Regions from separate parts of the Homo sapiens genome. Here region 2 is linked to region 1. The links come from fine-mapping of genetic effects on gene expression. A gene starts in region 1. The other region holds a variant in brackets. All regions are shown on one strand. Distances are between the middles of the regions. Region 1 holds the start of ACTR3-AS1 (ACTR3 antisense RNA 1). Region 2 overlaps ACTR3-AS1 (ACTR3 antisense RNA 1).

Region 1 (9,255 bases):
TAGGTTAAAAAATAGCTGTCACAGAAAGCATGGCCAGCAGGTCCTCCACAGGACCTTTCCGTTCTGTGCCTAAAATTCTGAACTGTGTTTTACAATAAGCCTGAAAGTTCGTTCACCGCAATATAGTATTTGCAATCCAAAGTCAATATTTCAACACAAAATTGGCAGGCAGGAAAGGAGGGAGAGTCTTTCGCTAAGTCTAAGTAAGAGTCTGACTTCTCACTAGGAGCATGTCTGTTGTACTTACTTCAAACAGCATGCAAAGCATGACTCATCAAGGAATAAGAATTTCAATGAGTGCTTTTTGGTTAAGAAGCTATTGTGAATATTTCTGCCTTTGGAGATGGCTAAAGAAATAGCATTATTAAGCCGGTGCAGTGGCTCATGTCTGTAATCCCAGCACTCTGGGAGGATGAGGTGGGTGGATCACCTGAGGTCAGGAGTTCAACAACAGCCTGGCCAACATGGTGAAACTCTGTCTCTACTAAAAATACAAAATTTAGCTGGGCGTGGTAGTGGGCGCCTATAATCCCAGCTACTTGGGAGGCTGAGGCAGAAAATCACCTGAACCCAGGAGGCAGAAGGAGGTTGCAGTGAGCCAAGATCATGCCACTGCACTCCAGCCTGGGCGATGAGAGCAAAACTCCATCTCAAAAAAAAAAAAAGAAACAGCATTATTATTAAACAATACGCACAGAATTCATGGAAGAAACATGAACTTCCCACATATACCTTCCTTCATTTACCCAGCTTTTCCCCACTGCTCTTCAAACAAGATCATTCTTATCTGCACTAATTGCTGAATTGTGGCCACAAGATGAACATACTCCTCTTTCACTGACACCTACAAGATATTTAAGCTTACATTTTAAGATTGCTAAGAAGTTGAAGTCAGTTAGCAAAATTCCTTAATCTGCTCCAGATATGAATATATCCAAGACTTTGACCATAGGGCTATATTAACCTCTGCTATCATAATCAGTGGAACTAATTTACCAATATTTTATTTACCAGGGGAAAAAAAAAGACATAAAAGGGAAAAGGAAATTCACAATGCAGCTCTGTAACCAAGCTACGATATAACAAGGAGTTAATAAGGAGCGCCCTCATTTGGCTTGAATGATGGAGAAACTTGAGTAAAAACATGCATTTAAAAAAAACCTTTAAGGCTGGGCGCGGTGGCTCACACCTGTAATCCCAGCACTTTGGGAGGTTGAGGCGGGTGGATCACGAGGTCAGGAGATGGAGACCATCCTGGTCAACATGGTGAAACCCCATCTCTACTAAAAAGAGAAAAATTAACTGGGTGTGGTGGCATGTGCCTGTAGTCCCAGCTACTCGGGAGGCTGAGGCAGGAGAATAGCTTGAACCTGGGAGGTGGAGGTTGCAGTGAGCCGAGATCGTGCCACTGCACTCCAGCCCAGCGACAGGGCAAGACTCCATCTCAAAACAAACAAACAAACAAACAAAAAAACAAAAAGCAAAAAACACATTTAAAAAACGATCCCTTCCACCGCCCAGAAAAAAAAAAACCTTAGGATGATCATACAAGTGTTACAATGTTTTTTTAAAAAATGTTTGTGAATGCCTTTTAAAGAAAATGCTTTTCTCACCACTAATAGCAGGTTTGAGTTCTGTTATTTAGTTTTCAAGCCACCAATGGGAATCTATGTGCCCCAACTGTATTTTACAATGCTTTCCAATACAGACCAAAAAAGTGTGTAGATAAGGGTATCAATGTGAATGAAGCATTTCTTTTCAAATTCTTTTCAAAATAAGTATTCTCTTTTATGACCTGAATCTAGGTGATTCATATGTTGAGTTTTGCTGGACGATCCCTAAAAGTTTTGGGCTTAAGTTTCAAGTTTCCTAACTCTTAACAGCTTTCCTATCTAAGACGATCAAGTTTTACAGATGGCCACTTTTTTTCAGCCACCTTTCCCCTAATTTATATAATGAATGAAATGAGCAACCTGATTCAGGTTATAACTTTTTACTTAAACTAAGTGAGTAATTGTAATTTAGAGACCTCAGAGCTGAATGCATTCTCTAAAGCATAAAAAAAATTAGACAAATTACAGGTGCACAATTTGCATTCGGGGACCACAGAATTTTGAAATGTAAAAGCTCCCTGTTAAGGCCATACTTAGAGATGTTTATCTCAGGGTCCTCAACCTCAAGGACTTATCCTCCATGTGCAAATAAAGCTGAAGGTGTAACTTCCCAGGAGGCACCACTGGAAACTTGTAAGACCAAAAAGGCTTTTGAGAACCAAAATAACTGAAACTCTAAAGGGGGAATTTCAGATTGTGACAAATGGTAAAAGAGAGTGAGGTGGCAAGGGGACTCCTAATCAGTTCCATTCAAATCATCAATGTGCAGTTAATAACCTCTCCTTATTGGAGAAACCAATGTAATAACTTAAAAATACACTATTGTGATAATCGTAATTTTAAAACAGAAATAGCCTAGGTTAAATTGAACCCCTCTTCCCGATCCTACTGGTCATTCAGCATGTTTTAAATTCAAGGTTGCCCTTTAGGAAAGGAGGTCACTTAAGGACAGTTTATCTCAATGAAACATCTTGTATACTAATTCGAAACTATTTCAAAAGGGGGAAAATGGAGATTAGAAAAGTAACATACTACTTGAGATGTTACCATATTATTTCTCAGGGCCACAATTATTTACACTATTTTTTTGAAAACGCAGTAATTTCTAAAGCATTAATTATGTAGCAATATTCGTCACTTTAACAAAACACATTTGAAAAGTCCTATCCTACTGACTCAGGCCAAATCTAATTTTAAAACTGAACCTAGACATAAAAATACTCACCAATTAGACTAAGAAGGGAGAAATAAAAAAAATTATTGGTTCAGAGAAATGAGACTGAATTAAGGAAAAACTTTTAAATAAAGTGTTCATCAAAAAAATACATAGAAGTTCCAAGGCTAGTGTTTTCCTAGGAGAATATTAAGAAGTTGGTGGTTTCTCTCTACCTAACTGGGATTTTAGAAACTGCCACACTAGCTAGTTATGAGAATGAAGATTAAAGAAATTTCACATAAAGAGTGAAGGACACACAATCTTTTAAGTAACAATAATGAAATCAATAATTATAATTAATAATAAAAAAAAAAGCCTGACAGTCCACCTCTTACTGACTTCCCCCTCAAAAAAAAAAAACTGGGAGTGTTCTGGGAATTGGAGAGATGTCATCAGCACAGAAAAAAAAACCACTTTCCTATATGTCATCCTGAAGCAGTGATTCTACATAAAAATAAGGGTAGTCTATTCTCTATGCAGTTATGAGTGTGGTACAACTCTCTAAAACGTCTATTAATACAAAATGAACGACCACACTTTAAAGCCACTCTACATTTTCGCAAACTACCCTACATATCTACGAGTAACTATTTGCAACTTAAACACCCTCCTATATACCTCTATACCTTCCTGCTTCCTTCAAGATACCATCACAGAATGAACGAATACAACTTAAATTAGTTTATTTTCCAGGGTGCTTCCTTTCCCCCACTCCATGAAACATAAGTACATTTTTTTAAGTCATATAAATGGACACCAAGCACCGGTAATTCAGTCTCTTTAAAACCTGCTTAAAAGTTCTAGTAAGATGTGCTCAGGTTGGAAACTAAAAACTACCTTATAAGGGTATAAAAGACTGAAAGCAGGAAGCGGCTTTGACAAAACTAAGGAAGTTGCAGCGCGCTTGCTCACTGGGGGACTTTTTTGAGGCTACAGAAGTAACACATGACATCTTTCTCCCTCGAATTAAAATGTGACTTGGTTCACCGGTTAAAACGCAGAGGGAGATGGAAATGACCAGGAGTCGAAAGGAGAAGGTGGGTGGTCAAATGAAAGCCCCACTGTAGGTTCCCATTTTCAGAGTCCGATTCTTCCCTTTCCCCACCCACACCCTGGGCAGAATGTTGTCACAGCGATCTTGTCAAACCTACCAGGAGCGCTTCTCTTTTCTAGCTCCCCTGCCAGGCCAGTCCCCGAGCTCGGCCCCTGGGTCCCCAAACCGACTGGCAAAAACGGGCGCGGAGGGAAAGGAAAGCCGGATGGGTCGGGCCCGGGGACCACCCCCAAGACGACCGTCCCCAGCGCCCTTTGGGCGGCGCTGCCCACCGTAGTGGGGGAAGGGCCGGGAGGGGTCGCGCGGAGAAAGCCGCTGGGAGGGTTGGGGGTTGAATCTCGGGCCCGCGCCCCCGCCCCAGTCCCAGGAGGGAGAAACGAGGGGACCCGCGAGGCCCTGGCTGCGGGCCCCACCCCTCGCTGGCCGGCGGGTCTAGGACTGACAGCCGGCGGCGGCACCTCGCCGCACCATTCATTTCCCGGCCTCCTCCCTCCCCCGCCATCTTCCTTCCTCCGCCTCAGTTTCCCCACCCCCGCCCGTAAGCCCCCTTACCCCGTGCCACAGTCCACCACACAGGCCGGCAGCCGTCCCGCCATCTTCCTCCTCGCCTGCTGCTGCTGCTGCCGCCGTCTGCTCCGTGCTGCTAGGGGCCAGAGATTGGCGGCGGGAGACAAGGGCTATCTGACCATCCACAGCTGGGCCGCCTTCACCGTCCGGGGGGTAGCCGGGAAGCCGAAGCAGTAGCAAGAAAGCAGCAGGCTCGGTCGGCGGCTATCACTTCCGCAACCCAGGCAGGCAGGCAGTCCCCGCCCTGCCCCGCCGCGGCCTCCTCCCCCTCTCTCTTCCCTCCTCCTCACTCCTGCCCCCACCCTACAACTTCTTCCCCTCACGCCGCCTTTCCCCGGGAAGCCAAGATGGCCGCCGGTGCCGACGCCCCGGCCAGGCCAGGCCCAGGCCCCCAGCGCTCCCCCTTCCGCTCCGAGCGGGAGGGGCTAGCGAGCATGCGCAATAAGGTACGTTCGCCTGCCTGGGCTCCGATCCTGAAGTTGGTGAAATCCACTGCGGGTTTTCCAGGAGTGTAGAGGCGGAGAAGTCTATCCGAGCTTCCAGTTCTGCTTCTGAAGCTGGAAGGGGCTTTTCGGTTGTAACCCTTGGGTTAGTTTCAGTTACTTCTTTGCTAGGTTGAGGAAAGGGTGGAAGCGCCTCCTGCAGCCACGAATATCCTCCAGTGCCTGAGAGAAAACGGCCTAATCGAAAACGTCCGCGGCATACATCCATTCTTAAAACTTGAGTGGCTGCTTTTCTGGGTGGAAAAGAGCGGTATCAGACAGGGTGAGCAGTCGGGGAACGGATGAACAAAGACTTGCACCGTGGCCCTGATGCCTTTGTTCCGAGTTCTATTCAGTTGTACTTGTGCGTTGTTACAGGACTTTAGAATGCAGCCCTGCCCCCCAACCCCCACCTCCCAGGGCCGACCTGTGCTCCTAGGAAGGCAAACCTCCCAGGAATATATTCTGCATAACTATACAAATAGGCCTTTATTCAAGGCTTTTGGATTATGACAAAGATTACCCTCAGGAGTAGTAAGATTCTACTAGCAGGATAATAGAAAGGATTAAGGCTCCCCTCCAAAGAAAATTTTTTTAAGTTAGAAACGGAGGCGAGCCGCAGTGGGTCATGCCTGTAATTTCAATGCTTTGGAAGGCCGAGGTGGGAGGATAGGATAGCTTGAGGCTAGGAGTTCGAGACCAGCCTGGGCAACATGGGGAGACCCCCCCCCATCCCTCCAAAAAAGAAAAGAAAACTGGAAAGCCTTAAAGAAACCTTTCAAACTTTAGTGTGTATCAGAATTACCTGAAAGGTTTGTTAAAACAGATTGCTGGGCCATACCCCCAGAATTCTCTGACTGGGCTATCGGAAATAATGCCTGAGAATGTGCATATCTAATAAGTTCCTAGTTCCACTTTAGGACCCTAGAAGGTTAGTATCTTTCCTCTCTACCAGGCTTATCTTAGGATGAACCGTTCGGGGTTTGCTGATGTGAAGCTAAAACAAAAATATTCTTTAAAAGGAGGGATGTCTTATTCAGTCCATAAGATCATCTAATGTATTAAGCTGGCTTGGGGGATGAATCGGGTGTTTCATTCATTCATTTGACAGGTAAGCATTGCTTACCTACTCTATTATGACGGGGTCTGTGCTGACTCCGAATATTCGGTGGGATGCAAAATAGTTAAGTGCTCTTGTAGAGTTTACAGATTAGCGGAAAACAGACAAATTGTGTTAAGAGCAATAGAAAGAAGAGAGCGGAGGACTCTGAGAAATGAAGGCGAGGAGTGGGAGAATGAGAGGAAGGTGGAAGGCAGGTAAGGAGTCTGACCAGCTGGTATTTAAAAGCTAAGATGGGGGGAAGAGTCTCCCAGGAGAGTGAACAGCAAGTGTCAAGGACCTGAGGCAGGAACAAGCTTGGCTTCTTCCACAAATTGAAAGAAGATCCATATGAAAGAGTCAGAGAAGATGCAATGGGAGATGAAGACTGAGAGATAAGGAAGAGTGAAACAGTGCAAGAATTTGTAGACTGCTCTAAGCATTTTAAAGTTTATCTTAAAAGCAGCTTGATAAATTAGATTTATGGTAATTAGTTTAAAAATAAAAATAAAGCAACTTGAAAGGATTTAGGCAAGAAAAAGTTGTGTCTGCTTTGTAGAGAATGGCTCCAGCAGAGTCCAGATTGAATCATACATTGTATGATATTCTGTGTTCCGGAGTTCGCAGATAGAAGTATGTGAGGGCCAGCATCCAAATGGAATCAGGTATGTGCAGAGGAGACTCACTAAAGGGCATCATCATCAATTAGTGCCCAGCATGTCTGCAGCTATTCACGAGAGAAGGCTTTTTTTAGAGGTTGTTTTCAGAGAAGTCAAACAACTGGTTGTCTCAGATTCGTTGTCGTTGGTTTCTCCACTACATTTTAGAAGATGCTAGATGGGGACTCTTTGCTGCCGCTTCTACTACCTGGTAATTAAAGTCTTTTGAGGAAGCATATGCTTGAAGATTGGCTCTGACAGAAAAGACAGATGTGGTTTAGTAGGGGTAGAATAAATGGTTGTTTCCAGCAGTTACAAGTAGTAAGTCAGGAGTGAAGAGATCCTACCAAAGAAGTTTCGAGAGCAGAGGTTAGTGCCCTCGGTCACTTGGGCAGCCCATGCCGGTGGCCCTCAAGGTAGCTGCCCACACTCTGGCCTTGCACAGTTGTCATGGAAGTAGTTAACTCAAGCAGGGTTGGAAACTAGTGCTTCGAGGTCTAGGCAGGTACTGTTATGAGTGAAGGGGGCCATGAGGAGGGTATGGCAATGTGAGAGCCCACAACCCAACAGAAGGCAACAGACAACTGTTGCCATGTGGAAATACAGCCCTGGTATTGCCAGAGCCTTTTTTCTTCCCCAAGAGAAATCTGAAATCTGCATTTTTATCTTTGGTAACTGTAATGGTTTGAATGTGTTCCCCAAAGTTCATGTGTGAGAAATATAATTTCCAGTGCAACAGTGCTGAGAGGTGGGAGCTTTAAGAGGTGATTAGGCCAGGAGGACACTGTCTTCATGAATGAATCACAGGACTGGGTGCCTGATAAAAAGGAGTTTGCCCCCGCTTCCCTCTCTCTCTTTTGCCCATGTGATGCCTTCCACCATGTTTTGACACAGCAGGGACGCCTTCACGAGATGATGGCCCTTTGATCTTGGACTTCCCAGCCTCTAAAACTATGAAAAATAATTTGTGTTCTCTATAAAGTACCCAGTCTCTGATATTCTGTAAGCAGCACAAACTAGGCTAAGATAGTAACTAATTTTTTTCTGCATGTCATATCTGACCTGTGGTCTGCCAGTTTGCATCTTTTGATTTCGGAAGCTACATGTGGTTCAGTAGTTTGCTGCCTTCAAATATGAAGCTCATGTCAGTGCTAAGTACTGTCTCTCATTTCATAGGCATGAGGAAACTGTCACAGTCTCACATAGTCAAGACTGTCCTGTGTTTGTACAGGCAGTAACTGTTAGAAGCATTTGGAAGCTTTCAGTGCTTGTTGGAAATGTCATTGGTGCTCATTCCTCATAATCTTGTCTACCCAAACACTTTGCTTGCTTAAGATCCCTTCTACTTCCTGCTTGCTGCATGCCAAATTGGTCAGCCTCTCTGCTACTGTGGTGGCCCAGCCTTCCTCAGCTGCACATAGCCTTCAGTCACACATCCGGCCAAAGCATTTCTGACCACCCTGTTTGCATATGCACCCACTCCCTGCTTACTCATCTCCAAACACAGAAGCAAAGGATGTCAGAGACAGTTCATCCTTCATTTCATATTTGTCCCTAATAGCACCTCAATTTCCTTTCAGTTCAGGTCAACCCGGTCCTTGGTTCTTACCCATTTCCAAACCTGTTCCGAAACTTTCAAGCATTTGTGAGTCTTGCAGTATCCTTCTCCTGTGGCTCAAGTTAGCCACAGCAAGTTCCCATTACTTGCATCAAATTTGAGAAGCCTTAGTGGTACAGAAGCCCATAGAGTTTAAGTGAGTTTTCCCAATATCTTTTTCTTTTTTTTTTTGAGATGGAATCTTGCTCTGTCGCCCAGGCTGGAGTGCAGTGTAGTGCGATCTCGGCTCACTGCAAGCTCTGCCTCCTGGGTTCATGCCATTCTCCTACCTCAGCCTCCTGAGTAGCTGGGACTACAGGCGCCCGCCACCATACCCGGCTAATTTTTTTTTTTTTTTTTTGTATTTTTTGTAGAGACGGGGTTTCACTGTGTTAGCCAGGATGGTCTCAATCTCCTGACCTCGTGATCTGCCCGCCTCGGCCTCCCAAAGTGCTGGGATTACAGGTGTGAGCCACCACTCCCGGCCCCCAATATGTTAAAGAAACTAAGGAACAGAAGTCCAAGTCAAAATCCAGTTCTTACGCCTTTTGGGGGGCTCTTTAATTGTAACGACAAATTAGCAAATTGTCTTTGGATCTTAAAAAGTGTCCAGGAAATTTATGTCACTCAATTTCCATTATTTTAAGATGAGAAATAGTATTTTAAAAATCAACTTAGGTACGTACTACAGGGCTGACTGTTTGCAAATTGGCAGATGAATCAGATTCACAGAGAGCCTTAATTCAGAGCAGGTAAGTTGTAAAAGTACCCCAAGCAGCCTAGTGGTCAGAGGGGAGGGACTGTGAAAACTGTCTTCTCTCTTCTCAAGTTGTGTGATCTTAGCAACTAACTTCTTATGTAGAGAGAGCACTGATTTTAGACTCAAGAGACTTGAATTGAGTATGAACTCTTTCACTTACTCTGTTTCTTCATCTATAAAATTCACAGGAATATTTAACCTATAGGGT
Region 2 (9,255 bases), 51 kb after region 1:
TCACACCACTGTACTCCAGCCTGGGCGACAGAGCGAGACTGTCTCAAAAACAAAAACAAAAGTTAAAAAAAAGATTTCTGTATGGGAATATTCTTTCCGTGCGTTTGTATGCCCTTGCTAAAATGCAGGTTGCATAACAGCCTTAATAAGAAAATTCCTAAGCCTATGGAAACTTGTGGGAGGGGTGTAGTCATGCATAATCTCACATCGAAATCTGCCAAGGCAGTGAATACTATAGAATCCACAACTTCAGTTTTCATTCTGCCCCACAGCTCAGAGCTGGAAACATATGTGCTTATGAATCTTTGTCAAGTTAATCACTTTTTCCTTTTGCACCAAAAATTTAAAACAGACTTCTTAGCAACTGTCGCTAGCGTAATCTGTTTACTAAAATCATATGATAAATCACACTCGAGGTAAGTTACTGTTGTTCTGTAAGTTCCTGTTACTCTGTTAATTGCTGTCATTTTTTCCCAGAGTTGTGCTCTCCTGCAGCGTTTTGCGGACGGCTGGCTATCTTACCCAGAATCAATCACACTGGGACACTGAAAAAAAAAAAAAAGGAAAGTAAGTAGAGTCAGCTATTTCATCTCTTTGTGAAACGTCTCCCCATTCTCGGCCTGAAACCATAATTTACCTTCCCAACCTTAAGAAAATCTTTTCTGCATTCTGCTACTTCTTGAAAGTTGCCTTTGACCTTCCAGTGGTCTTCTCTCACTTCCATTCTCTTTCAGCCCTGCCAGCATTTGCGAAGATGACTCAGACCCTCTTTACTGAAAGATAACTTATAAAACAACTCACATGTCATGAGCCTCCGCAGAAAAACTTCATTTCCCACTTCAAACCCAAAGTTTCCCTCCTTTAACTATATCCTAATTGGTAATAACAAAAGCACACATTGAACAACGACTTAGATATTGTGCTAAGCACTTTACATATATTAACTCTTCTCACCATCCCAATAACACTATGAAATACAATCTATTGTTATATCCATTTTGATAAATAAGAAAATAGAATCCAGAGAGTTTATGTAATGTGCTCAAGGAAAAACATTGCTCAGTGGCATGCCATTTGGTAATTGGTACCACCAACCATACCATCATTTGTCCACACCAGAAACCTAAGAATCAGGATTAATTGCTTTCTCTCCTGTTCTCTCCACATTCTTACCATCTTAGGCCAAACTACCACCATGTCTCACCCAGACCACTGCACCAGCCTTCCAACTATTTCCATTAATGTTCCTTTATAGACTATTCTCCATATAAATGACATATGAATTTGATAAATCCATAATCATAATGAGAGATTTTTAGAAACCTCTTTTTTTTTTTTTTTTGAGACGGAGTTTCACTCTTATCGCCCAGGCTGGAGTGTAATGGCGTGTAATGGTGCTCTCTGGGCTCACCACAACCTCGGCCTCCCAGGTTCAAGCGATTTCCCTGCCTCAGCTTCCTGAGTAGCTGGGATTACAGGCATGTGCCACCATGCCTGGCTAATTTTGTATTTTTAGTAGAGATGGGGTTTCTCCATGTTGGTCAGGCTGTTCTCAAACTCCTGACCTCAGGTGATCCACCTGCCTCAGCCTCCCAAAGTTCTGGGATTACAGGCATGAGCCACTGTACCTGGCTGGTAAAAACCTCTTTCAAAAACTGACTTCATGCAGACAAAATAGTCATATGACTCAAAAACATTTATTTTTATTGTGCAAATAACACAATTAATGATCCAAATCTTACGGAAATATGTGGAACACTACACACACACACACACACACACAAATAAAGAATACACAACAACACTTAGAACATTTACAAAAATTGGCTGGATGTGGTGGCTCACACCTGTAATCCCAGCACTTTGGGAGGCCGAGGCAGGCGGATCACTTGAGGTCAGGAGTTTGAGACCAGCCTGGCCAACATGGTGAAACCCCATCTCTACTAAAAATACAAAAATTAGCCAGGAATGGTGGCACATGCCTGTAGTCCCAGCTACTCAGGAGGCTGAGACAGGAGAATAGCTTAACCCAGGAGGCGGAGATTGCAGTGAGCCGAGATCGCGCCACTGCATTCCAGCCTGGGTGACAAAGCAAGACTCCATCTGAAAAAAAAAAAGTTTACAAAAATTGACTATGTCTTATGTCTCAAAGTGAGTCAACAAACAACACAGTCATTATTATATAGACCATATTCCCTGATCACAATATAATAAAGTTACAAATCAGGAGCAAAAGGATAGTTAACCCCTCTGTGTGTTAACTCTTCTTTACTCTTCCTCTATAAAAAGGAACTAGCATTTCCCAGCTCCCTTGGTCTCTGGTAACCTGGTAGGCTCTGCAATGGGAAGCACTGACTGCAACCTGGGGAGTCACAGGGGGTAAAGGAAAGATGTTCCCCACTTCCTGTGGGGGGCGCGAGGAGAGGATTCCTTACAGAGAAATTTATATCCCAAAAAGCAAGTTCTAGTTTTGAGCCTCCTCCTCATTTTGCTGACTTCTTTGCACTTTGTTCACCAATCTAACTTTTTTCCTTTCTTTCGCCATTTCTGTATAATTCCTTGATTTTTTATTTATTTATATATATATATATTTTTTGAGGTGGAGTTTCGCTCTTGTCACCCAGGCTGGAGTGCAATGGCACGATCCCGGCTTACTGCAACCTCTGCCTCCCAGGTTCAAGCGATTCTCCTGTCTCAGCCTCCTGAGGAGCTGGGATTACAGGCACCCGCCACTACACCCGGCTAATTTTTGGTATTTTTAGTAGAGACAGGGTTTCACCATGTTAGCCAGGCTGGTCTCGAACTCCTGACCTCAGGTGATCTGCCCACCACGGCCTCCCAAAGTGCTGAGATTACAGGCATAAGCCACTGCTCTGGGCCTCTGATTTTTATACCTCTGTAATGCCCTCTTGAATCCCTTCTCCTCTTTCTATTTTCGTTGTGACTAGTCCTCTGGCCGCTCACCTGGAAAGGCAGAGGAGAGGGTTGTAACTCTGGGAGTTGAATTATAACTAATCTTCTAATGATGGTGTTTAACAAAAGCCATGTTAAAGGCAAAGTGCTTCTGTTTCGAAAAATACTCTCAAACCCAGTTTTCTCTTGGCCCTCACACCACCTCAGCAGCAATCAACAACAAAGAAGAAGACTTCTTTGCCTAAATATGCGGGGAATTTCCCGACTCACATAGCAGCAGACACCAGCTGGATGTCCTCCAATTCAGTTCCGACACTGTCTACCTGGAGATAGCATCAGATTCTATCGGCTTGGGGCTTAGTCCCCAAAACTGCCCATTCCACAGACACCCATTGCAGATGTGGGCCTCTGGGACTTCCGACCAACCAGCTTCAAGCTGGGGTTCCTACACCTTCTCTTTGCGTTCAGTTAATTTGCTAGAGCAGCTCACAGAACTCAGGAAAAAAGTTTACTGGTTTGTTATAAAGGGCATTACAAAGGATACAGACGGAGAGATGCACAGGGTGAGGTATGGGGGAAGAGGCGCGGAACTCCCATCCCCTCCCTTGGCGGTCACCATCCAGGAACCTCCGTGTGTTCAGCTATCTGGAAGCTGCCTGAATCCAGTCCTCTTGGGTTTTTGTGGAAGATTCATGATATCAGCATTTCTTCCCCCGGCTTATAGGGCAGGAGCATCTCTGGAGAGGATCTTAAGACCCGTAGTCAGAAAGGTGGGGTAAGACTAGAGTCCTGCCTTCCAGAAGGTGAAAGAAGGGCAGGAAAAGGTCAGAGAGATTCTGTTTTCTGAATCTGCTCCTGAGGCCTAACACACCCAACCTTATAACGAAAGGTTGTAACGAGGGCTCTGGGAGATATGGTCCAGGAACTGTGGACGGAAATGTGTGTGTGTGTGTGTGTGTGTGTGTGTGTGTGTGTGTGTGTGTGTGTATAAAATAACACCACAGCTTCCTAGCCAGAAAGAAGAGGAGGCCGACCTTGACTGTAATGTCTTAATGCTGTTAACACAACTGAGAAAAACAAGTGTCAATCAGATGGGGCATTGGTAACTGGAAAACAACAGCAAAGGCTAAGGCCAGCGGGTCTGGTCAAGTTAGTTCAGGATGCCTCTCTGTTGTGATTATTTTGTTGGATTTAACTTCTCTAGAACCAAACGTAACCGGTCTCTACATTTCTGGCAATCTCACACCGTTCCTTCAGTGATCCATGCTCGAAATGCATAAATGATCGCTGACTCTTCTTCCCCTGTAGTCCTCATTATCTACTTGATTGAGCCTTTTTGACGCTTACTCATTTTTTTTCTCTTCCCTCCTCCCAGCCAACCATAATTTCAGGTGCTTATTAAAACACACTCAGATTAATCCCCCCAATTAGACCTCTTTGCCTCTTCCTGACCCTCCCAAGGGTCCTGCCCTACTATTAGGTAATGACATAAGACCCAGGAATAAGTATAAGGATTCCCACTGGCCTCCATCCTGGTATTTAAAACAGGCACAGTGCTCACACCTGTAATTCCAGCACTTTGGGAGGCCAAGGCTGGGGGACTGCTTGAGTCCAGGAGTTCAAGGCCAGCCTGGGCAACACAGGGAGAACTCCTCCCCCCACATCTCTACAAAAAAATAAATTGAAAACAAAAAACAAAACTAGCCATTTGTAGTTCCCAACTACTTAGCAGGCTGAGGTGGGAGGATTGTTTGAGCCTGGGAGGTCAAGGCTGCAGTGAGCCATGATTGCACCACTGCACCCAGCCGGGTGAAAGAGTGAGACCCTGTCTTAAAAATAAATAAATTAATGAATTAAACAAAACAGGCCTCACTTTCCTCAGGGAACCCTGGATC[C/G]TCTCCCTACCCCGGACACAGTAGGTTCAGTTGGGTGAGTTCTCTGCTTTCCTCTAAACATGTTATGCTCACACTTGGCCCCCAGGGTTTGCACTCAGGGTGCCCAACTCACAGCCATACTGCAAAGTCCCATTTCCTCCTTGAGTCCTTTGCTGATATGCCCTGGTTTACACTGATTCCTACCCTGGCTTTCTTTAGACCCAAAGACATTTAGGCAAGGGCGGATGGGCCATGTTGCTAAGGAGGCTTACACTTGAGGGCCCCTTAACTTGGACAGTCCCCTCCAAGACTGTGTGGCTAATTTTTATTTATAATTTTGTATTGTCTTAAGAAGATCATTTAAATTGTAAAAGCCTCAGGCCCCACGCAATCTGGGTCTGTCCCTGAATTTAGACATTAATTTATATTCTTTTCTTGAAGGATTTTCTAACTGGTTAATGTACAACAAACCTGTTTTCTCAACTTAGTATGAGCTTCTTTGCTAAATAATGCTGTGCAGTATACAGTGTGGTGGTTGAAAGGGTCATCAGTAGAGTCCCACAGACCTGTGTCCAAAGGTCACTTCTGCCGTTTCCTAGAGATGTGGCTTTTGGGCAAGTTTAAATTTTCATCTTCATTGATCTTCAGCTTCCTCAGCTGTTAAATGGGAATGATTATGGTGAAGCTTGCATTATGACTTTCAGAGGCCCAAGGAACTTTTGCCTTCATAGGCCCCTTTCTCCATGAAAATGATTACCAACTATATTTTGTGACTGTGTTGGTAAAAAGGCTAATATAATTCAACAGGGATTCTGTTCTTTTTTTTTCCTTTCTGATGCTAAAATAAACAAAAACATTTTCATGAGCCCCTAATAGTGTCATGGACCCTTGACATAGTGCCTAGTGAGCCTAATGGATAAGTTGACCCTGATTATAGAGCACACAGAGAAGCCTGGTGAATAATAAATGAGACAGTGTACATACAACATTCGACAAAGTGCTGGTGTGTATTAGGTGTTCAGCGGACGTCAGATATTACTTTTGTTATTATTATATGCCTCTTTCATATAGAAATGCTTACTAAATGGGATTGAATAGAGCTTATTTTACACTAAACCATTTGTAGCAATGGGAGTTTGGAAACAGATATCACTTTCTTATATATTATTATAGAATGTCAATTAAAGCTTTTCTGCTTCCCGACTTGGTACCCATCCTGTATTTACAAGCAGTTATTGCCTACGGACCAGGTGCTTAGATGTCTTGAATTTCAACAGAGCTCCTTAAACACTAGGTTCCCAAGCTCCACTCAAGAGATTCTGACTCAGTGGCTCTGGAGGGAGATCTGAAAATAAGTACTTAAAAAAATCTTACTCCCTTGGTGATTTTGAAGAGCAGCTAAATTTGTTGGAAACCACTATCATAGGCAAGCCGGTAGAGGTCAGTGACAGCTGAAAGAGTGGTATACGGGGGCATTAGCTTACCTCTTCCTAAACTCTGTAACACTCACCCTCAATCACTGCAAATAAAATGAAGTGTCTGCTATGCAAATGCAGCTTCCAGACAAGTCCCCTACGCACTCCCTTCCCAATCAGATTGTACCACTAGCCCCCCTTAGTAAAGTAATTTTGGAGCAGTCTGCAGAAGAGATATAATTCATATTGTAGCTTTCAAGGAACTTCCAGGATAGAGATCAACACAAAACCAAGGTAGCATACTTTTAAGATTTTAAGGACCAAATGGGTACTGTGGACATTGAGCACTCAGAAGAGGAAGCAATCATGATAGACTGAGTTGCTGGGGGAGCCTCAAAGTGAAGAGTGACTTATGTTGAATCATGAAAGAAGGTGGACCTGAGACATTGAGACACGAAAAAAAGAATAATAGACTGGGGGTTAGGGGATGCAGGAATAAAACTGGCTTTGCCACACGCTAGCTGGGTGTCTTTGAAAATGAAGATATGAAAAAATGTAAACCTGTCAACACCTATTCCAAACAAGAGAAACCTGGTATAAAAATGCTAATATTTGCAAAAATACAATTTAAGACAAAAAAGCATTATTAAGAATAAAGAGGGGGCCGTGTGCGGTGGCTCACACCTGTAATCCCAGCACTTTGGGAGGCCGAGGCGGGCAGATCACAAGGTCAAGAGATCGAGATCATCCTGGCTAATATGGTGAAACCCTGTCTCTACTAAAAATACAAAAAATTAGCCGTGCCTGTAGTCCCAGCTACTTGGGAGGCTGAGGCAGGAGAATTGTTTGAACCCAGGAGGCGGAGGTTGCAATGAGCCAAGATTGCGCCACTGCGCTCCAGCCTGGGCAACAGAGCGAGACTCCGTCTAAAAAAAATAAAAAATAAAAAAATAAAGAGGGATACAACACCCTGATAAGGAACAGTTCACCAAGAGGATAGAATCATCATGTACTTGTATGCACTAAAAAAAGAAAAAATGTCCTGGAATATGTTAATTCTCAAACTGGGAGAATTGACACATGCACATCAGATAATGATGGATGAACTATTTAAAACATAATAAGGACAAAGAATAAGTGATTTGAACAAGAAGGAAAAACCAAGGCACAGAGCAATGAAATAACTTGCCCAAGGTCTTGTAGCTAGTAAGTGAAGAGCTGGGATCCAGACCCAGGAAATCTGCTTTTATGCCACCCTCAGCTAAAGTTTCATCTTGAGTGATAGAGCCTTAAAATGTGTTTACACCAAAAAGAAATATTAAGGATAAGTCAATTAAGCATTTAATATACAATTCAAGAAGTTAGAAAAGAAAGAAGAGGCCGGGCGCAGTGGCTCAAGCTTGTAATCCCAGCACTTCGGGAGGCTGAGGTGGGCAGATCACGACCTCAGGAGTTTGAGACCAGCCAGGCCAAAATGGTGAAACCTCTTCTCTACTAAAAATACAAAAATATTAGCTGGGCATGTTGGCCCGTGCCTGTAATCCCAGCTACTTAGGAGGCTGAGGCCGGAGAATCGCTTGAACCTGTGAGACGGAGCTTGCAGTAAGCCGAGATCATGCCACTACACTCCAGCTTGGGCGACAGAGCGAGACTCCATCTCAAAAAAAAAAGAAGAAAAGAAAAGAAAGAAGAAATATCCAAAAGGAAAGAGAATGCAAAGTAAAAACAAGAATAAAAAAGAAGCTGGGCACAGTGGATCACACCTGTAATCCCAGCACTTTGGGAGGCTGAGGGAGGGCAGATCTCTGGAGCCTAGGAGTTGGAGACCAGCCTGGGCAACATGGCGAAAACCCATCTCTACAAAAATTACAAAATTAGCCAGGATGGGAGACATGCATGTATGGTTCCAGTTACTCGGGAGGCTGAGGTGGGAGGATCACCCAAGTGCAGGAAGTTGAGGCTGCAGTGAGCCATGAAAATGGTAACTATGTGAGGTGATGGATATGTCAATTAATTTTGTTGTGGTGATCATTTTACAATCACATATTGATATATGTATCAATATGTTTTGATACATATATCAAAACATCAAGGCCAGGTGTGGTGGCTCACACGTGTAATTCTAGCATTTTGGGAGGCTGAGGTGGGAGGCTTGCTTGAGCCCAGAAGTTGGAGACCAACCTGGGCAACATAGTGAGACCCTGTCTCTATAAATAAATAAATAAATAAAATAATAAGAAAGTTTGAAGGGTCATTTTGTTTTATAGTATACATATAATCATATAACTTTGCTATTTGCATATGGAGGGCGACAGTGAATATTCATTATCAAGAAGGGCTTTGGATTCAGAAAAGGTCGGATTTTTTATTCCAATTGAAAATGGTCTGGAAATACACATGCACAGTTGTTTGTCCTCGTTCACTGTCTCTTTCTTTCTCTCTCTCTCTCTTTTTTTTTTTTTTTTTGAGACGGATTTCACTCTGTTGCCAAGGCTGGAGTGCAGTGGCACAGTCTCGGCTCACTGCAACCTCTGCCTCCCAGGTTCAAGGGATTCTCCTGCCTCGGCCTCCCGAGTAGTTAGGATTACAGGCATGTGCTGCCACGCCCAGCTAATTTTGCATTTTAGTAGAGACAGGGTTTCTCCATGTTGGTCAGGCTGGTCTCAACCTCCCAACCTCAGGTGATCCGCCCGCCTCGGCCTCCCAAAGTGCTGGGATTACAGGCATGAGCCACCGCCTCCCACCTGCAGTTGGCTGTTTGTTGTTTTTTTGTTTCTTTGTTTTGTTTTTTTATGCTGCCCCGCCCCCTCTGGTTCTTTGTTTTACAGAAAAAAACAGGCCCAAATTGAAGGCTATTCTTTGACATAACTGGCCAACACTCTTCAAAAATGTTAATGTTGTGAAAATAAAGATTGAGAAACCATTAATGCTAATTTCCTGATATTAATCATTGAATATTTATTATTAATTAGTCTGAAACTATGTTATAATAGTTACTACGTATACATAGACTATGTAGAAACTTTGTGCTCCATTGCTAACAGAGTGCACAT

Evidence for each region. PIP is the estimated chance that this variant, and not a neighbour inherited with it, causes the effect. A credible set is the group of variants that fine-mapping cannot tell apart.
Region 2: its variant is the best candidate, but not a certain one, in a credible set for the expression of ACTR3-AS1 in Th2 cells (Schmiedel 2018, PIP 0.51).

Annotation. Positions count from the first base shown.
Region 1 is chr2:113,885,504-113,894,758 of GRCh38, reverse strand. ACTR3-AS1 (ACTR3 antisense RNA 1) reads left to right here and starts at 3,767. Exons shown (of 5, transcript NR_110174.1): 1 at 3,767-3,866. It overlaps ACTR3 (actin related protein 3), which reads right to left and starts at 4,670. Exons shown (of 12, transcript NM_005721.5): 1 at 4,436-4,670. The coding sequence starts at 4,479. It overlaps LOC124906071 (a long non-coding RNA gene), which reads left to right and starts at 4,992. Exons shown (of 3, transcript XR_007087205.1): 1 at 4,992-6,696. RefSeq lists enhancers at 3,730-3,909, 3,960-4,009, 4,092-4,747, 4,780-4,869, 4,990-5,299 and 2 more and silencers at 4,140-4,399, 4,640-4,699.
Region 2 is chr2:113,834,576-113,843,830 of GRCh38, reverse strand. It overlaps ACTR3-AS1 (ACTR3 antisense RNA 1), which reads left to right. Exons shown (of 5, transcript NR_110174.1): 3 at 478-567. Among named protein-coding and RNA genes, the nearest start is that of ACTR3, 51 kb to the left of the region's middle. The variant C/G (reference allele first, on the strand shown) is at 4,809.